Regions from separate parts of the Homo sapiens genome. Here region 1 is linked to region 2. The links come from fine-mapping of genetic effects on gene expression. A gene starts in region 2. The other region holds a variant in brackets. All regions are shown on one strand. Distances are between the middles of the regions. Region 1 overlaps ZNRF2 (zinc and ring finger 2). Region 2 holds the start of ZNRF2 (zinc and ring finger 2).

The links. PIP is the estimated chance that this variant, and not a neighbour inherited with it, causes the effect.
Region 1: its variant is fine-mapped to the expression of ZNRF2 in whole blood (INTERVAL, PIP above 0.99).

What each region holds. Positions count from the first base shown.
Region 1 is chr7:30,363,995-30,376,852 of GRCh38, reverse strand. ZNRF2 (zinc and ring finger 2) reads right to left here. Exons shown (of 5, transcript NM_147128.4): 5 at 9,164-10,818. It also overlaps the pseudogene DKFZP586I1420. Among named protein-coding and RNA genes, the nearest start is that of LINC01176, 20 kb to the left of the region's middle. The variant C/A (reference allele first, on the strand shown) is at 5,050.
Region 2 is chr7:30,275,278-30,288,135 of GRCh38, reverse strand. ZNRF2 (zinc and ring finger 2) reads right to left here and starts at 3,539. Exons shown (of 5, transcript NM_147128.4): 1 at 2,310-3,539. The coding sequence starts at 2,778. LOC124901607 (a long non-coding RNA gene) reads right to left here. Exons shown (of 3, transcript XR_007060274.1): 3 at 3,882-3,937. LOC105375218 (a long non-coding RNA gene) reads left to right here and starts at 2,051. Exons shown (of 4, transcript NR_136267.1): 1 at 2,051-2,076. RefSeq lists silencers at 2,294-2,423, 2,574-2,653, 2,734-3,123, 3,204-3,253, 3,264-3,693 and 1 more and an enhancer at 8,667-8,786.

The sequences.
Region 1 (12,858 bases), 89 kb before region 2:
CAATGAAAGCCAATGCTATCTATGAATGTACATGAAGATGATTCATTAGACCCTCAACCTTTTAAAGGTATTTCCAGCTCTTTCATTTAAAAATGAGGAAACTGGGACAGGCACGGTGGCCCACGCCTGTAATCCTAGCACTTTGGGAGGCCGAGGCGGGTGGATCACGAGGTCAGGAGATTGAGACCATCCTGGCTAACACAGTGAAACCCCGTCTCTACTGAAAATACAAAAAAAAAAAAAAAAAAAAAAAAAAAAAAAATTAGCCAGGCGAGGTGGCAGGCGCCTGTAGTCCCAGCTACTCGGGAGGCTGAGGCAGGAGAATGGCGTGAATCCGGGAGGCGTAGCTTGCAGTGAGCCGACATCGCGCCACTGCACTCCAGCCTGGGCGACAGAGCGAGACTCTGTCTCTAAAAAATAAATAAATAAATAAATATGAGGAAACTGCCTCAATTTTAGTAATAATTTAGGACAAGTTCTGCTCAAGTGCAGCAGTTAAATAAACTTTGAAAGAGACCCAAGAGTCTTCACAAAGTTGGAATTAGAAGGCCTTCAGAAATATTCAGGTAAGGAGAGATAGGAGTAGAAGTGTCTCCCAGAGTCATCTAGACCTGTGCTGCCAGCACAGTGGCCACTGGTCACATATGACTCTTGATAACTTAAAATGTGGCTATAGTCCTGAATAGAGATGGGCTGTAAGTGTAAAATACACACCAGATTTCAAAGAATAAATATATGCTAAAACAATAGTTTGGATATTAAATACCTTTGGCCTTTGCAACATTTGAATTCCAACAACGGATGAACTTTATATACCATTTGATGAATATCATCTATTTGGATAATATCCTTAGTATTTACAGATTTAATATTCCAAGTGTTAATGTACTACCTTGAAAGGCAGGCACACAGGCTCTGATATTAGTTATTTGATATTTTTCTGAAATATAAATTCATATTTGCTAACACTGTAGAGTCTATGTTCAGTTACCCAACTAGTTATCTTGCCATCAAATGATCAAGCCAATTAGAAAGCATTAAATCTCAAGGTGACTTTGTTGGAAAGATATTTTTTAATTACATACTCTTTAAATCTCTTAATACACATTAAATTAGAAGGTTCATAGAAAACATTACTATAAAAATAAGGCACTACATGGCAGAATTTTAAAACCCTGCTTCATAATTACAGCATCATTAAGGTACTGCAGAAAAATCATTGTTATTTTTACTCATTTTATGTGAGAAGTCAAATCTTAAACCATGTGGTAATATTTATAAAAACAGGTACTTTGGCATCTTTGAATATCTCCCTGTCGGATATTAAGTTTACAATATTTTCACAGGCCTTGCGTGGTAGGAATTCTTGGTCTAGGAAGTCTTAAGTTAACTTTAAGAGAAACTTGTGAAAACTTGGATTGGTGTTTCCATGAGTATGTTGTTATCAAATCAGGGAATCCGTGAGGAGAGTTGCCTCCTTGACCCACAAGGATATCCCAAGGTTTCTGCTGCTCTTCCAAGAAATGTAAGTGTACCAGTATTCGTTTCCTGACTTCTGCTAAACAAAAAAGATTATGATGGGGCCAGCAGCAACTCATAGCCTTCCAAGAAATCATAAATCTCTTCTGGTCCTCCTCTTACCTAGGCCAACCCAACCTATCTCAACAACAGCATCCATCAGGAGAGCAGGCTCTATCTTTCCCATATGTCTACATCTACAAGACCTTGCTTCCAACAGATTTACTTGTGTTGTGAAGATCTGAGAAGACTGGTATAACGGAGAGAGTATGGGACAAATGAACCAAAGGGAAAACCTCAAGAATGCTTCAGAGTGCATCTCAGCATTTCCTAAGTAAACCCAGGAAAGCACGGCTGCATTCCAATAAGCAGCTAGAGCTAAGCAGGGAGGTGACACGAGGAAAAGTCCAACCCAACCAACCTAGACATCGTTAAACTAGCTCAACTATCCCACTTATCACATACTTACCGACATTTGGGTAGAGACACCTCCTGCAGCCTAATAGACACTGCTATGATTTGAATGTTTGCCCCCACTGAAACTTGTGCTAAACTTGATCCCCAATGTATCAGTACGAAGAGGTAGGGCCTTTAAGTGGTGATTGGGTCATGAAGGCTATCTATGTCCCCATAAATGGATTAATCTATGCATGGATTAATGGTTATTATCAAGGGACTGGGTTAGTTACCACAAATGGGTCTGTTATAAAAGCTAGTTTGGTTCTCCCTTGTGAACTCCCTCACCAAATGATGCACTGTGCTGCCTCTGGACTCTGCAGCACTGGCAATAGAATGGACAACTAGAACTTGTCCCAGCTGGGTCAGTGCTGCTCTCTAAATCTTTAAGTTTTGTTCTTCTGTACTTGCTTTCCCTATTTTCATTGCTTTAGTTCTGCCCTTCATCATCTTGCCTGAATTAGTATAAATTTTCTAACAGGTCTCTCTGCCTCCAGTATCATACCTCTCTAATCTTAAGTATAAATGTGATTATCTTTTTCCTGTTTGAAATCCTTCAATTACAGTTTCAGACACAAATCTCTTCATGATTTATCACCTGTTTACCTCTTCAGACATAGCAACTTTTTTTTTTTGGAGACAGAGTCTCATTCTATTGCCCAGGTTAGAGTGCAGTGGCACAATCTCAGCTCACTGCAACCTCCGCCTCCTGTGCTCATGCCTCAGCCTTCCAAGTACCTGGGACTACAGGCGCACACTACCATGCCCAGCTAATTTTTCTATTTTTAGTAGAGATGGGGTTTCATCATGTTGGCCAGGCTGGTCTCAAACTCCTGGCCTCAGGTGGTGATCCACCCTGCCTCGGTCTCCCAAAGTGCTAGGATTACAGGCGTGAGCCACCGTGCCTGGCCAACTTTTTTTTTTTTTTTTTTTTTTTTTTTTTTTTTTTTGAGACAAGAGTCTCGCTCTGTTGCCAGGTTGGAGTACAGTGGCACAATCTCAGTTCACTGCAACCTCTGCCTCCTGGGTTCAAGCAATTCTCCTGCCTCGGCCTCCTGAGTAGCTGGAACTACAGGCGCGCACCACGCCCAGCTAATTTTTGTATTTTTAGTAGAGACAGGGTTTCACTGTGTCGGCCAGGATGGTCTCAATCTCTTGATCTCGTGATCCGCCCGCCTCCACCTCCCAAAGCATAGCAACTCTTTAAGAGTGTCTCGCTTTCCTCCTATGTTTGTATGTGCTAAGCTTTTTGCCTTGGGAATACTCTTCCCAAACTTTCCACTTTGTATGTTCCACATCCCCTAGAGCTATGATCTATTTGTTCTTCAATACTTAAGTTTAATCACTCTCTTGCCTAGTCTGAATAACTTTCCTTTGTACCTCTACAACACCTTGTACATATGTCTATCAGAGCTTTTATTGTTCTCTATTACATGCTTGCTTGCTTTACTCACTAAAAATTCAGTTCGTAGAGATCAGCTGTCTCATATCTACATTCTTGGTCCATACAATCTACAGAGTCAAGTAGTGCTTTATACTTGCTGATATAGTAAAGTCACTGGCTTTTAGTGAGAGTGGAAATCAGCACCCATAATGTTCTCTGTTATACCTAGGTTTCTTTAAACATTTCAGTTAAGGTCTTAGATATTACTACTACACCTCATGACTGGAGCGAATACTAAAATTATTCATAAATGGGCACAAATATGTTTACTGTTTATACTAGCCACTAACATTATTAAGTGCTTACTATGTGTCTGGTGCTTACATACATGTACTCTTCTAATTAATCCTCACACCAACCCTGATGTAGGCAGTATTATCTCCTTTTACAAACAAAGTTGGTGGGGGGGGGAGGGGTGGAGGCCTCTATCTTGCCCAGTGTCCCTAAGACTGTTTCCAGAATTCATGTTCTTACACTAGGAAACTCAATACCTTTTACATCATGAAAATTGTGCTTCAAAAGATTTTTTACTTTTTTTCAAAACACAATGAAATGTTACTAAATACAAGCTAAATGTTAAAAGTTATTGATTATACACTAGCAGATCATCCCTCCCCAAAACTTTTTTTTTTTTTTTTTTTTGCTTGTCCCACTGAGTTTTATTGTAGGGATACACACAAAGGATGTGCCCTCAATTCCATAGTTTCTTGATGGACATGTTTTTCCTCACTGTCCTTTGGCATGAGATAGGACTTTGGACTACCTCAAAGTCCTTCTGAGTGACATGGACTCGCTACTCAGGGCATACATGCCGGTTTCTGTGCACATGCCCTTCACTTCAGCCTGATGCTCCTGGCATAAGCTCAGCAATTTTTCTCAGGTTGATCCCCTGGGTCAGGTTCATTTCTGAGAATGAATCTTCAAAGTGACCAGCCAGGCCTACTCATTGCAGGTTGGGAATTCAATTTTTCTGTCAATGTGCCCTGGGCAAAGCAGTGCCGAGTCCAGGATATCAATCGTATTAGCAGCCGTGATAAACCGTGATACTCTTGGTGGCCTCAAAGCCACCCTCGAAGCATCATCTGCTGCACTTCACTGTTCCCTCCAGCATCCCCCTCCAGCTCTGAGGAGCCAAAAGAGTCAATTTCATCCATGAAGATGACAGATGAGCATTTTCTCTGCCATCACAGAAATTCCCCAATGAATTTCTGTACCAATTCAGAGCCAGAGACATGAATAAAGGTACACAGTCCCTATGATGAGCCAGAGCCCAGGCCAACAGTCTCTTCCAAGCAGCATTCCCTTGGGCTGTGCAATGCCCAGTGCTTTGAAGAGCTCGGGATGCTTAGCAGGCAGGTCGATCACTTCTTTGATCTTCTTGATCTGCCTATCCAGTCTACCAATCATTTCATAAGCTGAATCTGGTACTTTCTTCACCATCATCAGTGACACCAATGAGTCCACCTTGTTGGGTAGGATCTTGTGCAAAGTGTAGCTGTCATTTCTTAGAACCACCAAGGAACTGGGTGTCACATCACTGATGCTGATATTTTTGTCCACATCTATGACAAACTTGTCCTTGAGATGCACCTTGACCAACACTTTCTTCTTACCCATGGCCTGGACTACTT[C/A]CCTGACACAGGAGTCCTATTCCTGCAGCAGCTGTAGCTCCTCCTGTAATAGGCACACTTTAACATTTAGTTCATTCCCGTGCACCTGCCGCCTCCAGAGGTTTTGGGTCTTATCATTCAAAATCAGCTGCAAATGCACCTGGAGTTCAGAACTGTTCCTTGTGGCTTTCCCCCATCCAATTTATATTGCAGTTGACCCTGGAGTTCTTCAATCTTGGACAGATAATACTGGCAGAGTCCACTGCCTGCCTTTTCCTCCTCCAGCTCCATCTGCTGTGGTCCGTCAAGCGCCATCTTGTCTTTTCAGCAGAGAACGCTGGCATCTGCTTCCCTCCCCAAAACTTAACAGCTGTCCAATCATATTTAAATTACAATATTTACATATAGGTTTTACATCAGAAATGTCAAAGTACATCTTTTACTAACGGTTAATGTAACAAAGAAAGACTTCTTTACCCATTACTAATACAAGCATTATTACTTAATATAGAATTTTCATTAATAATCTTAAATTCAATTTTGTGGGAATGGATATACAAAAATAAAGAAGCCATAACATTAATTCATGGTATTTTTCAGCATTCAGTTATTTCTTAGTTTTATTGCAATTCATTGTCAACTTCTAGATAGAAGGGAGAATATGACAAATTTCCTTGAAAGCACTCTTCTCTTATTTTCTACTTCTAAATAGTGGGATAATTTAGCAAGATCATTTGGGAGTTTTATTTATTAAAATATGAATAATGAGTTTTTCCATTTCAGTTTAGAATATACTAATACAAGTTTTTCCTAATACGTTTTCTCTGTCTTGTGATTGATGCTTTTGATATCTTATTTAACAGGAAAATACCTAAGAGAGAAAATTAAGGTGTTACAAAAAGAGTTGTGGAAACCATGAATAAAGCAATAGAGCCACGATTTTCAATGAAACTCACATAAACAGTTATTATAAAGAAAGAAAATGTAATAGGCTAGTGTAATAAACAACAGTATCACCAGATTCCAAAATCTCTTTTGACTCTGTAAGGGTCTGCTAACTGTATTATATGCACCTAGGTACTCAAAATGCTACTAATAATCAAACCGTTTGAAATTTTGGTACCAGAATTACCAGTAACAGGATATCAGCAGAACTTAAGTTTATCAAACATAAATCATTAGTACCTACCAATTTCAATCTACTAAGTCAGAAAAGGAAGGCATGAGAATTTAGTAATAGGAGAACTTTGTCATTTCCAGTGCCAAGACTAGGGGTCCTGACAGGTACCTCACTGTACAGGTCAGAGCTAAGAAACACAATGTTGGTTCATGTACAACACTGGTTCATAGAAAACACAATTTTATCACTTAAAACTTTTCATTTATTTCTGGGATGTTTGTTTATGCCATGCTGTTCTTTGTCTCTCCATAAATGAGCAACCAAAAATCTCTCTTATTATTAGCCATTGGTCTAAAATTAATGATAGCTTAAATATCTAAAAATAAACCAAGCCCCTTCTAAGTACAGTAATGTTGCACTTTCAACCAAAACTAAGTATTAATGTATCTGGTTTCCTTCAATGCCTTTCATTTTCCACAGAGAATCAGGTGACTTTGGAGACTGTGTGTTTCACATTTAATACAGGAATTATATGATTTAAAAAGAATATTCAGTTTCCCAGTTTAAGCAAGTCATTCACAAAATATGATACTCAAAGTATTGTTTGGATAAGTTACTACCTAGAAAGATTTACCAGCTATTTTTTTAATATGAATCACTACTACAAGTATACCATGTAGCAATTTCCTCTAAAGAAAACCAAGCAATTTAATTTTAGAATGAAATGATCTGGGAAGAAAAGAAAAGTAGATAGTAAAACAGAGAATTTAGCTACTGTTATTTACAACATAGCAAAGAAAAAATCAGAAGTTACACACTTCAGAAAAAAAGGAATAGGCCAAAGACAAATGTTGGCATGCTAGAATTTTTTTTTTAAACTAAGAAAATACCTGTACAAGAACAAGGGACACTGAACAAGGGCACTTCACATTTAACCACCCATTGCCAACAGATATTGAGTTCACCTCAGGGTAAGAAAATGGTCCAAATGAACTAGAAGACTTCCAGCAAGTAACAAACTATACTCATATTTAATAAGCACCATTTACCTCTATGTAGTTTTATATAGTTCTCAGCAATGTGATTTATATGAGCGCTTCCTCTATGGAAGAATAAGATGATTTGGATATTACTATCAATGCACAGTACGGATGCCAATTAGATGGTAAATTCAATTATTCTTAAATTTTAAAACAACAAGTTTCATGCTTTGTTCAAATACAGCTTATTTTTTGAAAAATTCCCCTCTTCCACTCTCCTAACTTGGTACATAAAGTTAGGTAATATTTACATTGAATTTACAGTCTTTTTCATTTAAAACAGTATCAGTATATCTTGCTGTAAGATATTAATTTAAGTGATTGTTGTTAACTTCACTATACCCAAACTTAGCAATATGGCTGTGAGTCAAATAAACTTTGAAAAGGAACCTGCCATTTTCATTAACTCATTCTGACTGTAATCTTTGAAATACATATGGCAGATACGCTGAGGCTGGCCCGTCATTTTGGGGCTACATTTTAGTAAAGTAGCTAGTGAGTGAAAACTGAAATAATTATACAACATTTAAGAGAAATATAAGTCTTGCACTAAGAAACCAAAACCTACATATTATGTAACATAACCTTTTTAATGTTGTTTTTGCTAACACAAAAAAAGTTATACCATTATTTATATTTCAATCACAACATTGCTCTAAAACACAATCTATAATCCGTCTTGTAACCAGATCTGAAAAACACATATTCAGACTATTCTTAGTTTGTATCTCTGGCAAAAAGCCAAAGTAAAACGGAATAATTTTACTTTCTCCTAAACATTCTGGCAAGGGGGGGAAAAAAAAGCCAGATCAAAGTAAGATGAGGATTCAAAATTGGCAATAAATCCATTATGGACAAACAGTGGCACTAAAGTGAAATTTCAGAACATATTGCTTTCTATATATGCACGTGTGATCTTATTTGAACGTGAGTATTTACAAAGATTCTAGAAAGCTAAAACCAACTTGGTAACCTAGGCTTTCAATCTTTATTGTGTCCCCCATAATAATTAGTTGTCAGAAGTTTCAGCTTAGTATTTAAATATCTATTGTGATTTTATATCTTACTTATACTATTCAGTGTTTGCAAAATAGATTTACGAATATTTTAAGTGACATTATATAGAACATTACTTGTATTTTCCAGAATAACGACTTTGACTTTGAATAAAAACTGGAGCATTTGGGCTTTAAAAACATTTTTCCCCCAATTTCTAAGTTGCTCTTTTTAGGAAGTCACTGATAGAGATGGAATTTAAAGTAAAAATGCCAACTTTGTAAATTTTGTCAAAAAAGGGATTGCTATAAACAGACTTAAGTGAATACTGTTCCAGACAAATATAATCATCAAGTAGCACTTGACACTGACAAAACACTGAACTTTCTTTAAAACCATAGGAGCTTCTATTGTAGCAAATGCAGCACAGAACCTTATGACAAAGAGGGGCTAAAAAGTGAATTTAAGCCAATATAGGTTAAAAAGTAAACAAGTGAACTATTAAATTGGCGCAAAAGTAATAGCAGTTTTTGCAATGACTTTTGCATTAACCTATCAGAAAATCAACTTCCAGGAGAATACAGTTAATCCCCACAGCTGTAATAAATCTCTTCCTTTAAGAATGGAAGACAACAAAATAATTCTCATCACAAGAGTATACCAGCAATAGAAAATGAACCAATTATTCACATTCTAAGAGGTTTTACTTGAGGGGGTTGAGCAGGAGGGTATGAAAGCTTACAAAATCAAAAATGTGAAATAAAATGAAATCAAATTAAGACTTCATGGTAACAGAAAAAAACAGAAAAAGAATCGTTTCCTTAAGGGACGAATATTTTTCATAACTAGTAAAAAAGCACCTATTAAACTGTGCCTTCAGCTGTCACAATGGAGGTTTTGGATTCCTTTAGCAATTGCAGCATAACAAAAGGCATTTCACAGCATAACTTCAGGGAAAATGTTATCTGAGCTGGAATCATACAGAAAGCAATTAAAAACTCTTTAATTATTTATAATACACACATTTTTCTGGGTAGCAGCAGTTGCTCCTGTACTTGCCCTTTTAAAAAATGTGAAACAGAAGCAAGAAAGTAGGGGGAAAAATTTAGAGAAGATTAAGAGTAGCAGCGTTAAATAAAACAGCAAATTCTTAAATACATTATGAGTAAAGAAAGATTAAAATAAGGAAACAGTACTTACTGTGCAACTTTAAATTATACCAAGTAAAGTACACCACCTATTCACTGATAACATTTTCCCTACGTTGAAAACACAAAACCTACTTATCGATATTTTTGATATTAAAAAAAAGGACATTCACTATTGTAGCCCTGACAACTCTTCCAGTATTTTTAACCATTCAGATGTATTATGTGGGAATATTTATTAACATAATTTTGTTTAACACATTTCTTTCTACACAAACTGAATTTAAAAGTGTCTATAACATTTTCAATTACAGTAATAACACATGAATAAATTATAAATTAACAAAATCTTCATATCTACTTTAAAAAATCATTTATCAAATGCTAACCTCCAGATTATCTGGAAAATTAAAGTTGCAAATTGCTATAAACCTGGCATCCCAATTAAATTACAGTTTTTAAAGGTATATAAAATCTCCCTCAAATTCCAAGTTCCTCTCCAGAAAATTTTATTTTACCCTTTTCTTAAGTTTACAGCCTGCTAAACATTTTACCCAAATGTGAGAGAACTGCCTGGAGATGCAAAGCACAATAAAATAATTAAGTGAAAAGAACAAACAAAAGATACCCGTTAAAACAGTTATTTTAGCTGGCAGCACTTGAAATTGGTAATCTGTATTTTTTTTAAATTGCATAGCTGCAAGATGATTCACTGCTGATTAACTGTTGAGCAGTTTTATTTAAGAGGATAAGAATATTTAATAAATTGCAATTCAGTAGAATATTCTATATTTAATTAAAATGTAATTATGTAATATGATTTGCTCTTTGGACTGCATTCTGATATTAAACCTTTAATTTAAAAATATTAACATATTTTAGCTTTCCTATGTAGAAGTCTATTTTCCACTCGTGGGGGAGAAAATGGAAGAACTTGAGATCATGGTCTACATTCAGATGTTTTTACTGCTTGATTACATTTCTTGGTTTCACATTTAAGACTTCAATTTATAAGAAGTAAATTATATGTTTTTCAATTTAAGAACAGATGAATGCAGAAACATTATGAACATTATGTTGGGGAAAACAAAGAGACCCCAAATTAAAAAACAAAACAAATCAAAACATAACTAGTTGTGCAGCTCTGGAGAACTTAATAAAAAGTAAATCAACTTTTAAATCAGTTAACTTTGGCGTCTGAATACAAAATGTTTATCAGTATTACCTATGTAGATGACTATTAAGGGATGTGCAGCATTTTCAAAATCCCTGTGTGTCCTTTGTATGCATGTTTGGTACACTGAGTTCTGTGGTCACTGTCCTCTCTTCAGCAGGGTTTTTTTACCCCAGTACGATTGTCCATCTCTGTATTACCAAGTCTCACAAAACTCAGATTTCTGGCTGAGTATGCCTGCGTCTTTGTTTCTCCAGAGACAGATTTTCATATCCTCTTGGTTTTTCAAGCATCTTGTCAAGACAAGAAAACCTGTGTAAAAATAGATTTCCCCATGAACATTGCTTTAGTTACTGTAAGTCTTCATACCCTTACTTACTATTCTGAAAACTCATAAAATCAGTGATCTGGAGAAGAACAGATTAAGAAACAGAAGGATCAATTAAAGTTTAGTCACAAAAAATACATAACAAAGTCATCCCCCTTTCACAATAAGGACTACACGCAAGTAAAGAATGCACACACACGGAGATTTAAAATATTTCTCCCAAATAACTAAAAACCCCAAAATAAGTACAGCAATTTTCTAACTAATCAAGACCACAAATATTCATGTCTCTCTATTTTGGGTTGATTATTAAATTCTTATGCTGAAGGATATCAGAAACGTTGAGCTTTATGGCTACACAGTGCCTTACAAAATGTTTTAACAACACTGAATCCTCCTCAAACCCATATACCTTTAATCTAGGACTATTAAAAGGTATACAAGAATTTATCACTTGATAAATAAGAACAGTCAGGACAGAAGCAAAAATGTACAAGTCAAGATATTCCATGTCTATAAACTCTTAAAAATGACTCTTCAAGACCCACAGAAGCAGACTCCATTGGTTCAGATTTCTGTAGACACCTGATTAACAGAGTTCACCCTGCCCATGTAGTAGGCTAGTTTCAAATTCAGGTTCTATATTCGAAAACAAACAAATAAGCAAATATAACACTCATATGTAACATAAGAAAATGGAAATGTTGTTGAAGACCAACAGACATATGCATTTCAGCTATGAGATGAGATGTATGCTCCACATATCCCATAAGCTCACTGTGACACTAAAGGAAAAATTTAGCTGATGAAAGAAAAAAAATTTATACAATATAATTCCACCTCACCAAAAAAAAAAAAAAAAAAAAAAAAAGCTTATCAGCTCTATGGTCTAAATGTTTGTGTACTCCCAAAATTGCTATGTTAAAACCTAATCTGCAGTGCTATAGTATTAAGAGGTGGGGCCTTTGGGACATGATTAGGTGATGAGGGCTCTGACCACATGAATGCAGTTAGTATCCTTATAGAAGCTTGAGGGAGTCTGTTATCCCACCACGTGAGGACACACAGAAGGTGCCATAAATGAGCAATGAGCCCTCATCAGACACCAGATCTACTGGCTGGAACCTTGATCTTAGACTTCCCAGCTTCCAGAACTGTGAGCACTAAATTTCTGTCATGTATAAATTACTCATCTAAGGTATTTTGTTATAGCAGCCCAAAATGCACTAAGAAAGACTAAAAAGACAAATTTTATCTATAGATGAAGGATTTAGATGTATTACTTTGGCATGTAAAATACTAAGACAAAAATTTCATTTTGTTAGCATCAGTTTCAGTACTTCCCTTAAAATGCTTCTATAATTTTAGCCACAGTTTCGTTTTGTCTCAAACATAAGGTGACAATGAAGGCATTCCAAACCTTTTCTATGGTGAAATAAAAACATATGTGCACATATATTCAAAATACCACTCCACCACTATACTTCTCTTACCTAGCATTCTTACTTCCATTCACATTTTATTTATTTATTTATTTAGACAGGGACTTGCTAAGTCACCCAGGCAGGAGTGCACTGGTGTGTTCATAGCTCACTGCAGCCTCAAACTCCTTATCTCAAGCAATTAGTGTTCAGCCTCAATTCATATTTTAAATGTGTCAAGGCATGATCTAAGTAAGTTCACAGGAAAGGTTAAAATTGGCAGTCTTTTAGTACTCTGCAGTCTACCAAGGCTTCCACATTTCACATGCACATGCGTAGTCTTATGACACTCAACTGCAGTTCTCATTTCAGGTGCTATTGCTGCTATTATCTCAAATCTTCTCTGTCAATATTCTAATCTGCTACTCTTAAATCATCTTCCACCAATACAGCAACAGAATTCCTTGAGGGTGTTTATTACCTCAACACTTTTATTCTCAAATTTAAGAGAAGTTATTGAAATAAAAGGAAATGGTACCACACAGGACTAGACCTCTGGACGTCATCTGGTCTAGTTCCTTGCCATCAGTCTCAGCCTCCTAG
Region 2 (12,858 bases):
CTAAATCTCAAGATGATGAGAAACATGCTTCTATTGTTTTCCTAATAACCCGTCCACTAAAATATAGGTAAAAATCTCAGTAAGGCAATGCCACTAAGATGGGTTTTTACGTAAATGTATTCCATCTCCCTGCCTCAACAGAGATTTCAGGATGTGGCACTTTCATCTGATCCTGTCATATAATAAGAACAGGTAATTTCTCTGATGTCTTTCCAGCAATTCTCAACTGAGGTTCCTCATCTGAATCACCAAACACAGGAAATTATTTCAGTGACTTTTCTCAATTGTTCCAAGAATGATACATAACTAAAACCGTTCTAAATGCACTGGAGCTAAAAGTTAAAATTCATTGCACACTACGGCACAATTGTCTCCAGAAAGCCGGGTGAGAAAGGCTGCTGTAAGTTCCTCAGAAAGTGTCACTGTACTACTAGGCCCCAGTCACCCAACCCCAACAGCACTAAAAGAACTATAATGAGTGCACAAATCTAGAACTTAGATAAGAAAAAAGATAAATGCTTTATCTCCAACTTTAAGCAACTAGGTATTTTTACTTACTAGGAATAGCATGGGGCTCAACTGTCTCTTGCTCTGAATAGAATGCATTTACTTAACAAAATAAACCCACAGAACTATAATGTTTCTCAAAGGGAATTATCAGCTCTTAGAAAATGAATTTTTAGAAATCAGCATATTAAATAAATATTAACTATTAACTTGACAAGGCTTTTCCTATTCACCCTTCTTTAGCAAACTTAAATATTCATCTTCTAATAATTGCTAAATGCAAATTTTCACTTTAAAAAGATAATGATAAACATTAAAAACCAGTTTGCCCTTCATTCTCGCACTAATCACCAATTCTCAGAAACTGCCTTTTATATTCTTCAGTGCGGACTACAGCAACTTCAACTGTTAGGTTAGTTGTGATCAAATCACTTTAAGGACACCAGTAGAGTTCTTTTACTCAAAATCAAAAGCAAATGACTTTTAAAAATAGCCCAATTTTAAGAGGGATGAATATTTTTAAGAAGCAAAAATTACTTTAAAACAAGGTAGCTAATTAAAAGTCAAGCGTCGTTCCAATTGAATTTGCAAAGCGTTACTAAAAAAATGGGAAAAATGAAACATGACATTCCTGTTTTTAATTTATGCTGGCGTGTGTGCTGATAGTACAGAACATGAGAACGGATAAATTACTACGTATTCCACTTTACTAAGTCTCCAAAGTTCCTACGTTTACAAATATATAAGTAAAAGCGGCACAAAAATGTAGGGGATCGTGTTTTCGCTGCTCATCTGTGCTCAGTTGCTAATTTTTCTAATACCAGATACATAATGCGATGAAATGGGAATGCTTATCTTCTATACTTCTATTTATTTTCATAAAGGGGAGAGGGGAGGTGGTCTTGATTCATTTACTATTAGCGTTTTGCAATAAAGTAGATCAGCATAAAACATAACTGAAGAAGTAGGATTCATTTTCCCCAGGACAACGCACACTTCCTCCTGTTTCTGTAGTAAAGTACATCACTTTGCTATTAAAAATGTCCATTTTTCACAACTGACTTTTCCTTAACTCTAGTCAACACTGCTCTTCAAAAGAACCTAGCCAATTATTGTACCTTGAAGACAGATGTGCAAAATTTTTACTTCCTTAAGAAACTTTTCCATTTTTTAAATGCTTTCCAAATTAAGCAGGACTCACATTAACTGTGATCTTAAGTAGCAGTTTAGTGAGGTTTAAAAACAAACTTTTCATTAACGCATTCATCCAATTAAAATGACATAGTAACTGGGACTACTGACACAGATTTCAGGATTACAGCTTTATACTAAAAGTCGGTCCAAACATGGTAACTCAGTGTTCATTTGAGACGCTTTGACTTTTGGCCTTTAAAAACTGTTCCCCACTCGAGTCCCCAGATAGAACTACATTTAGCAACTGGTCTCCTCCTGACTTCCTGGTACTAAAAACCACAACCACAAGGGCTGTTTCGTCGGTTTGTTGTAAAACAACATTTGCTCCAGTCATCTCACTGGAAAATAGACTTTCTCTACTGGGCAGCCGCTGAGGTGAGGGTGCTCAGGATGTTTAAAAACAAAACCACGCGTCTATGCGGTAGCGGCACCGCCGGTGTTAAGCGCCGGGTTTCTTCCAGGATGGAGACCGACGCGGGCTGGTCCGGGAGGCAGCCCCCGGCGCCCCGGCAGAAGGAGAAAAGGAGAAGGGTAAAAATAGCCGGCGGCCACGGCCCACGTGCAGCCGCGGGAGGACCGAGCGCGGGTGCGCGGAGAGGGGTCCGTACCTCCAAACATGTGCGGCGAGAGGTGAGCTGGTAAGGAGCCGATCACCAGGCGCGGCCCGCCGGGGCTCCCGCCCACCGGCCGGTCCCGGCCGCCGCCGCCGTCCTCAGGGCTGCTGTGCACCGAGTCCTGCGAGCCGTACGGGCCGCTGCTGCTGTTCGGGATGCTGAAGGGGGACTGCGCCGCGCGGGCCCCCGACGCCACGCTCCCCACGGCCCCGCCGAGGGAGCGGCTGCGCGGGGCCGCCGGGGCTGCCGGGGCCGCCGCGGCCGCCGCGGCGCCGCCGGAGGCGCTGGGCTGGTGCGCGCTGGGCACCTGAGCCGGGAACCTCCCCGCGGCGGCGGCCCGAGCGCCCCCGCCGCCGCCCGCGGTCCCATTGGCGCCTCCGCTGCTACTGGAAGGTAGATCCGAGCCCGAGTACGCGCGCGTGCGGCCGTTAGCGGCGGCCGGGCCGCTCTGTTTGGCGCCCATGTCCGCCCTGCCCCGGGCCGGGCCCGCGCGCTGCGCCCCGAGAGCCGGGAGGGCGGGAGCGAGCGCGGGAGCTAGAGGGCAGGGCCCAGGCGCCGCGGCCGGCCCAGAGAGGCCCCCGCACGTCCAGGGCCGCCGCCCGGCGTCCAGAGGGGCAGTCGGCGCCCGGCGCGCTCTTCTTGGGGCGGCGGGCGAGGCCGACGGCCTGACGCGGGCGCGGGAGACGAGGAGACGCGGAGAGGAAGGGGTCCCGGCTGCAGGCACCCCTCGCTGGCTCCAGCAGGAAGGGGCGGCTCAAGTGGCCGTGCGGCTGCCGCTGGTTTCGGTTCTGGTGCGCCACGACGGGCCGCTACCGCTCTCTGCTGCCGCGCTCGGCGCCCCCGATCTCGGCACCGCCTCCTCTCGGGCGGCCGCTGCTACCGCCGCCATCCTCCGGCTCCCACGGCGGCTGGCGGCTGAGTGGGAGGCGCCCGCCCAGACTCCGCCGGGGCCACCTTCCCTCCTCCCCCAGCCACCCAGCTGTTATTAACGGAGAAAGAGGAAAAACGGGTGGCGCGCGAGGGGAGAACGAAAAATGGGAGGGAGAGGTGGCGCGCGCTTCCCGGCAACCGTCGCCTCGCTCCCCCTGCGAAGGAGGGGCCGGGCTGGCGGGAGGATCTGGGCCGCGAAGGCGGGGGGTGCGCAGATGGGGAGGAGGTTCCCCGGCCCCGCGCCGGAAGGCCGCGGAGCGGCGCGGCTGCAGGGTGCGCCCGGCCCGTGTGTTTGGGTCGCGCGCGTTGACCCCGCCCCCGCCCCCTCGTGCCGCCAGGCCGATTGGCTCCCGCCGGCCTTGCTCCGCCTCCCCCTTCCGCGACCTGCCTGCCCCTGCTCCGCCTCGCCAAGGTACTGCGGTGTGGTAGGTGCTGCCACTCGTGGACTCGGTGATGGACAGGTCTCTGGCCACGCCCTCCCAGCCAGGGCGCGCCCTTGTCTTCCTCGCGGGGCCTACGCCGATAGGAGGAACGGACACCGGGCGCCAACCAGAAGGCGGCCCCTCCTCCCGCACGTGGCCCGCCGACGCTGTAGGAGCCTGTGTCAGCTGCAGCTTTTCCTGGCAGGGGGCGTGAATGGCTGTGTCCTCTGCCCAGAGCCGTTTGGTTTCGGTGGGTGTTGGTGTTACACACTGATTAAAAAAAAAAACAGAAGCTCAAAAGCCAGCTTGATCTCAGACTTACTCATGAAACACCAACCTGGGAGGAAGCGCAGAGTTGGAAGAACTCGGGATAATCCAGGTTGACCCTCTGTGGTAGGGCAAATACTGTGGTGCCAGGAACGCTGCACCTGACTCACAAAACCTAGAATCTAGGCCCAACACCAAACTAAATTATCTGTAGTGAGCAAATTATTTTACTTTTTTGGACTTTAGGTTTATTTTTGTTTTTGTTTTTGAGACGGAGTCTCGCTCAGTCACCCAGGCTGGAGTGCAATGGTGTGATCTCGGCTCACTGCAACCTCCGCCTCCCGAGTTCGAGCGATTCTCCTGCCTCATCCTCCAGAGTAGCTGGGATTACAGGCACGTGCCACCACGCCTGGCTAATTTTTGTATTTTTAGTAGAGACGGTCTTTCACCATGTTGGCCAGGCTAGTCTTGAACTCCTGTCCTCAAGTGATCCACCTGCCTCGGCCTTCCAAAGTGCTGGGATTACAGGCGTGACGTACCGCACCAGGCCGACTTTAGGTTTCTTACCTGAACTGTTTGTGTTAAATCCTAGGGCACCTGCCTCTTTAAAATCCTATAACTTCTCTAAAATGTAATAAAATTCTCCTCAGTGCCTTCCTCAGTGTTGGTGTGGTCTCTTCACGGCAGAGCAGGGTCTGGATACCCAGGGAACAGCCTGCTCTGAGACTCCCATTATGAAAATGTCTAGTCTCTACTTGAAAATAATAATAGCAAGTGGTGTTTTATAAAACTACAGAAATACTTTGTCATCTTTTCACTATTTGCAATAAGTCATTTATGTAATGATTTTCATCACTCTTAGGGTATGGGAATCAAGTTTTTAAACAAATGGAGAATATATGTATACATATAAAGACGTGTATCTGTGTACACAAACACACATATATACATGGAAAAACAAAGGTACCCAGTGCTTTATATGCAGTATCATGTTAAGATATGGTCATCATTTTGGTTAAGTGCCCTCTCCTTATAGATGTTTCCTGCCACCTCCTCCCCCATCCCAGCATCACAGACTGACTTCAGTGTTCCCACTCAGTGCTGTACAATACCTCCTTCATAGCTCTGATCATGTTATTATTATTATTAGATATCTTGCTTGTCACTACTCAATTGGCTCCATGATAAACTTCATGTCTGTACCTCCAGTGTTTAACACAGTGTCTGGTCTTGCCATGGTGCAATAAATGTTTTGTGAATGAATGAATGAATGAGTGAGTGAATACATGTATCCTCACCAGTTGTACTAAAACGATTCTTTCTTGAATGTCACTCATTAACTTATCATGTTCTTATTCTCCTTGACATTTCGCTTGTGGTGGGTGCCCCTTCCACCTCCTCTCTGGTGAGCCTTGTTTCTTTCCCCACGAAGGTTCTGGAGATAAAATGCTGGCCTTCTATGTTCTTTCCTTGGCCTTCTTTCCTCTCTCCTCACCCCTCTCATCTCTCTCCAGTCACCAGCATGAAGCTGTCAATGTGTGTTATTGTCAACCAAACAGTTCTGACTTCGTTGAAAATGTGTCGCTTATTTATTTATTTATTTATTTGAGACAGAGTCTCGCTCTGTCACCAGGCTGGAGTGCAGTGGTGCGATCTGGGCTCACTGCAACCTCTGCCTCCCAGGTTCAAGCAATTCTCCTGCCTCAGCCTCCAGAGTAGCTGGGTTACAGGCACGTGCCACCATGCCCAGCTCATTTTTTCGTACTTTTAGTAGAGACAGGGTTTCACCATGTTGGCCAGGATGGTCTCTAACTCCAGAACTTGTGATCCACCCGCCTCGGCTTCCCAAAATGCTGGGATTACAGGCGTGAGCCACCATGCCTGGCCATCACGTCTTTAGTATACCTACCAGTTCTTCAAAAATTAAAAGTGCTGCTTCATCCAAATGAGTACACACAGGTATACACACATGTAGAACTGCAACGGGTTTTTGAGATAATACCCATGCTACCTGAAATGCACTCTGCTTTCTATTTGACTTCACTTTTGTAAAATGCTGGTCACTGCTTATTGGATTGATTTTACACCCCCCTATGGGGATGTAATCTGCACTTTGATAAACAGTAGTCTAAATCAGTGCTTTGCAAACTTTAGCACACACAAGGATTACAGGAAAACCTTGTTAAAACAGGCTGTTGGGCCCCACCCTCAATGATTCTCATTCCATAGCTCAGGGTTGGGCCTGGAGAATTTGCATCCTAACAAGCTGCCCAGTGATGTTGCTGCCATCAGACTTCGGACTCTTGTTTGGAGAAGCACTGGTCTAAATGACGCTTTCCTCTACAATCAGAACTGTTGTTTTAATGCCTTCACCACTTATCAAGAGACCAGAGCCCCAGCTCTTTAAAATTTTTCAAATTTGAAGGTTTTAAAATACACTATATTCCTCCTGATGCAGTTCAATGATATTTTGACCAAAGGCTTTGGGGGTGCAAAATTAGTCTGAATGTATTGTTAAAGCACTTCACATTGACAAAATTATTGTCCACAAACTCACACTGGAACAGGTAAGCTACTTCTGGGCTTTCAATAAAAATGCCTGACCAATCAGTTTGTTGTTGTCTAGTTTGAAGTTTAGTTGGGGCAAGCCTCTTCCCTTTGTGTTCCCTTACTCTCCTTTGCATTCCTCTTTCCTCTCTTGGTTTCTCTTTTAAAACTCTGCTGGATCAGACCTTTGATGTGTGGGACAGCAAATTTGCATAGTGACACCCATTAGTCCTCTTGGTCGGGGACCACAGCCTCTCTACAGGGCTGTCCTGCAGCCAGCAGTAGCCCTACACATTTTGCTAAGGTTTTGCCATCCCACTTTTCCCCTTGTTATAGGATTTAAGAGATGGTTATGGCTTTGCTTTTTTTTTTTTTCAAGTAAGTGTTCATACACTACCTCATCTCTACCAAAATAGGACTATATGTATAATTGCCTATTTTTAAATAGGCCTATTTTCCTATTATTTTGCTTTTTAAAGAAACAAATGGACCATCTAAACATTAAAATGAATCTTAATACATCCTACATATGTGTTAATACATCCTACATACACTGTCCAAGATCTTAGTGGTGATTAGAAACTTACATCTTAAATTCAAAATCTTAGTTTGTAGTATTTAGGAGTCACATTGTTGGGTAATTGTTCAGAAAACATCAAAAGTTTATGTAATGTCTTTAACAAATTTTTATCCTCCCTCCCCTGTACTTGTATTAGTTTTTTAATGAGAAGCAAAAGACAAGAGCCAATCATGACAGGATTAAAAGTACATGCCGTGAAGTGGTTGAGCTCAAGCTGGGGTTAGGCCCTGGCTTTGTCTGACACTGGCTGTGGGATTTAGGGCAAGCCACTTAACCTGGCTAAACCTGTTCCTTCTGTAAAACATGGATGATCATATAGCAATACCAGTCTCACAGAGTGGCTATGATTCTCAAAAGATTCATTCTCTATTTGAGAGTACTTTCAAATGTGTTAATAGAGAAACAAATTTTAATCTCAATGTTATTATCCCTAGCAGATTGTAATAATTTCCATATCATCTCTAGCATGTTGTGACATTGTACAGTTTAATATATACTAATACTCAATGAAATTGATTTTACCATTTTGTGAAATTTTAATACATTATTGATGCATAAGGATGTATTGGTAATAATTCGTTAGTAGTAGTTTACTAATAAGTATTTACATCACTGCTATAATAATGATGATAGTATGATATGTCATGACACATCTATATCTTTCCACCATGGGATGGATGGATGTGTGTGTGTGTGTGTGTGTGTGTGTGTGTGTGTGTACATATACTCATAGATAGCTAGATAGATGAAATTTGAAAGGAAATTATCATTAAGATATCAGAGACTACCTATTTGAAATCTCCAATATTTAAACTCTTAAACATTTTTTTTCTTTTGATTCCACAGGGTAGTTAACACTTTGACTAAAGAGTCTTTGGGTCCTAAATAGACTTAAATGTGTCACAAAAGTATTTCATGTTAATTAATCAATGACTGGAGCCCTATGGCTATGTTTAACATAGATTCCAGAATCATTTTCCTTTCTAAAAACAGCTTGAGATATAATGTCAGCACCTGCTAATAAAAATAATTTTTGCTTGCCAAAATGGTATGTAGTATTACTAAGAGCTTAAATATTTATATTGTGTTCTATTCTCAATTAATTCACTTGGGCTTTCAAACGTTGTTTTTTTTTTTATCTGTAAGAGCCCTAATTTAAAAACCCTTAATACCAACCAACCACAACCCATGATGCTTTTACTCCATTATAAAGGAAACTCTCAGATTCCATACATAGTGTTTTGAAAGGAATCCAAGATCTTTACTGGGGACATACTGTTGAAAAGACATAAAATTTAGTGGAAAAATGTATCATGGGGTCGGTACCAAGGGGATTTTCCCAGCCTACGGAAGTGAAGACTAGCTTGGAGAAAAAATAGCCCTCTGCTACATAATGCATGTGGTCCCTCCTCCAGTGCAGATGCACCCTCCAAACTGCCTCCTGTCACTTGCTTAAATCATGAATACTGTACGTGAATGACTGTTGTACATGAATGATTAAAACGTATTATAAGACATTTTCCCTTACCACTTCCTCCCTCAAAGTTAGTCAAAAGCCCCCGTAAAGGCAAGCCCTACATTTTAGGACTAGATTGTTTAAGCCTCCCAAGTACAGGAACTCTATTTCTGCTTTATTTTTAACTCTCCAGAGTGCCTGCTTATAGAGAGCTCAAGGACAATCTATATGCAAGAGACTTTGAGTAACAGCTATGGCTCGCTAAGGACAGGCAGCAGTGATTAATGCATGTCCGGAATTACTACCAACTTAACAGACTGTCGTCACCACATTAAGTTTGTGTGTGAAGTTGGCTGCCTTCTACACTGTTCAGCCAGGGCAAGTTTGTGCATTAGGGGGCCAATTCCCTTTGAGTTGCTATTGAATGATCTACGCCCCCAAGTTAGGCCAGGTTGGAAAGGGTAAGGTCATAGTTGCAGAACTGCCTTTCTTCCACCATGAGAAGATAGAGCAACAAGAGCTCCTGGTCAATTTACCCCACCCTCTGTTTCCCAGAAGTTAGCTGGGCTCTGGCTGAACTCTAGGGATACAAGTCTAAACTGGGTAGGTTTTGGAACATAGCCCTGAGCTGGGTCATACCTGGTGCAGGGAAACATCGGAATAACTTAGGACCCCCAATGGAGATATTTTCATTCTTTAAACAGAGTAGCTGAGCATCTGGGGATGTAAAGTTAAACCAACTAAACACCATATAGCTTCAAAAACCTTATAGCTTCTAATCAAGGGACTTAGATAGAAATGAAGAGATGGTCAGAGTACCATGTGGTAAAGGCATACTGGAGCTGACTGAAGGGATGGGGATTGGTGAAGGACAAAGATGTAGTCTGAGAAGGGACGCTGGGCTGAGTCTTGAGAGACTTCTGGCTTCAGCACCCATAGGCATTCCAGGCTGAGGGAGCATGAAGCAAGGGAGAGCTTTGAGCAGCTGAAGAACTTCAAGCAGTTAATTATAGCTGGAATGAAGAGTAACAGGTGAGAGGGTGAGAGAATAGGCTGGAAAGCTGCATGTAACCGGCCTGGTGTGCTGAGCTAAGAAGTTGGAATTCATCCAGAAAGCAAAAGGGAACCACTTTCCCAAACAGGGAAGTAGCAGGATCGCATTTACAGTATGGAAAGACAACTCCAGCAGTATTTTGGAGAATGGATTGATGGGAGGGAGGAACGCACAGTGAAGTGGAAGACTAGTCCAGAGGCTAACGTAGTCATCCAGGCAAGAAGTGAAGAGAACCTGAATTAGAGTGGTGGTAGGGCAGATTCTAAAACTCTTGAGAGAGCAGCCACCGCAGGTCTTGGAGGCCAATTGGATGTCCTACGTGACCAAGAAGGAAGAGTCAAGGATGACAGAGTCAAGATGACCAGGGACAGATAGTCCCTGGTCCTAGCACTAAGTAGGACTATGGGGGAAAGAGCACATTTGAGGAGAGGGAGCTGAATTCAGCTTTACGTAGGCAGAACAAAACCAGCCTTGTAGTTATGGCAAGGCATGGGGTTAGGTTCTGTTGGCTTTAGGCCTCCAGCTGTATGTTGAATTTGCACAGGGGTATGCACAGGTTACCCTAGTCTGGTCCCTCAGCGCACCGGATTTCACTTTGCTCAGTGTTTCTTGGTGTGGGAATCACGTCTCCAGCTCTCTCTGTATGTGTTCACCCTGTGCCTGCTCAGTGCTGTTCTGGGGATGGACACCCTGAGCACAGGGGTCAACAAAGGAGTGGAGTTAGTGCTCAGTTCAGTTGGAAGGTGACCAAATATGAATGCTGGGTGTGGCAAATTAATTTTCATTGTTATCACTCCATGAGCGAGGGAAATGCAGCCCTTGTTATTTTCCAACATAGTCTCCAGTAGAAACAGTTGTTTGTGACACTGAATTAGTTTGTTAAAAAATTCATACCTGAAAAATTGCATCATATATTACTTTAAAAGTAATGACTGTAGTAGGCAGAAAAGTGCTGCCTCTGCCCACCCAAAAATGTCCATGTCCTCATCCCTGGAACCTCTGAATATGTTACCTTACTGAAGCAAGAGAGACGTTGTAGTTGTCAATAAATTCAGAATCTTGAGATAGGGAGCTAGACCTGGGTGGTCTCTGTGGTCCCAGGGTGCTTACAAGATTCCTTAAAAGTAAAAGGGGCAGGCAGGGTCAGAGTGGTTCAAAGAAACGCTCAAGGCTATTGTTGGTTTTGAAGCCTGAAGAGGGCCACCAGCCAAGGGATGCAGGTGGCCTCTAGAAGCTGGAAAAGACAAGGAGATGGATTCTCCCCGAGACTCCAAGAAGAACACAGCCCTCCTGACACCTCAATTTTAGGTGAGTCAACTTAAGTCCCATTTCAGACTTCTGACCTCTAGAACAGTAAGATAAATTTGTGTTGTTTTAAGCCACTGAATTTATGATAATTTGTTACATCAGCAATGGGAAAACTAATACAATGACTATTCTTTAAGGTTTCAGAAGGCAGCTGATTACAAACTACTTCGAAAAAAAATCTGATAAATATGGCCACTAAATCCCTATGTGGCTAATCACATATACTTTTCTTTTTTTTTCTTTTCTTTTTTTTTGAGATAGCGTCTTGCTCTGTCCCCCAGGCTGGAATGCAGTGGCCCGATCTCAGCTCACTGCAACCTCCTCCCCCCGGGTTTAAGCAATTCTCCTGCCTCAGCCTCCCGAGTAGCTGGGATTACAGGTGTGTGCCACCACGCCCGGCTAATTTTTGTATTTTTAATACAGACCGGGTTTTGCCATGTGGGCCACACTGGTCTCAAACTCCTGACCTCAGGTGATCCACCCGCCTCGGCCTCCTGTAGTGCTGGGATTACAGGCCTGAGCCACCACATCCGGCATTAATCACATACACTTCTTCTTGACTTCCTGCCCTCACTCCTGAGCCCTGGTAGTGTAGGGAGCCATGCTTTCTTGAAGCTAGGCCTGCAGGTATCTGGGCTAGCATGCTGCTGTCAAAAGAACCGCATGGAACTTTCCATTGCTGGCCTTGGAACATCCTTGTAAGCAGGCTTCCAAATGTAAGCATTGAGATTAGAAGGGCACAGCATTAAAAAGAACAACCTTTGGTTCAAAGTTTCTGTTTGTATTTTCTAGAACTCTTAAAAGTCAATATATGTAGGTGGACAAAATATTTGGTGAAATTACAGTTCTGAAAATAGCCTTATGTTTGCCAGGACTTGAGGAAGGCCCCCAAGTGATGTCTAGTCCACCTCCTGCAAAGGCAAGAAGGCGGAGGTTGGGAAAGTCCACACTGACATCTAGTGATACAAAACTGCACTGCCAAAGGCTCCAACTGAAGCTATTTGCAGCAGTGGGCTCCTCAATTCTGATGCATCTACTGCCCCCCAAGAGGGCTTGAAGACTCAGTGCACACCAGCCAATTTCAGCTGCCCTGGTGGGGGCCAAAGCAGTTCAGGCTTCTTTATGTTTCACTTACAAACTTAGTTTGGCCATCTAAGAGTTTTGCCTCTTAATTTTTGAAATGATCATTTCAGCACATTTTAAAGCTATAGAATTTACTGCTAAAAGCTTCTTTGTGCTTGCAGTGGCCAGACCCTTTAATGCCAAGTGAATTTTTTTATTTTCTATATGTTCTCAGAACAAATGCTTGGGCTGAAATGTCCTGAGCAAGGAATGATCTGCAGCAGGGGATGGAACCAGTACAGCAGGTACTTGTCCTTTTTAGGCCCTGAGAACACTGTCTGCATTTCATTTTCAGCAACTCAGAAGTCTAAGGTACAGAAGAAATGACAGAGAATGCTTCTTCTGTCTTTCCATTTTTCTTCTATACACCAATGAAAATAAGTCAGCAGAGATACGATTTCTAGTTCCTTCCTTAATGGCGGCACAGTTAGAAGCAAGACTGCATTTTTAAGGTTGTTGCAGTAACCCAGGTGAAAAAGAATGAGGAGGCTGCACAACAATATGAATGTACTTAATGCCACTAAACCACTTAAAATTGGTTAAAATGGTAAATTTTGTGTTACGTCTATTTTACCTCAATTAAAAAAATAATGAAGGCTGGACAGCATCAGTAACAGTAGGAATGGAAGAAGCTTTTGCAGGACTGATCAAATGATTGGATGCAGATACGTTTTCACATCGTTCTCATAGGCAAAATGTACACATGAACAAATACTAAACTGTTTAGAATACTAATGCCAAAAAACTTCTACAACCTCCACATCGAAACAAACAGACCTGAACATTAGGAAATAATCAGATTTTACAAGGAATGTGTTTTTTATACACTTTGGACATTTTCTTTCATAATATGTAAA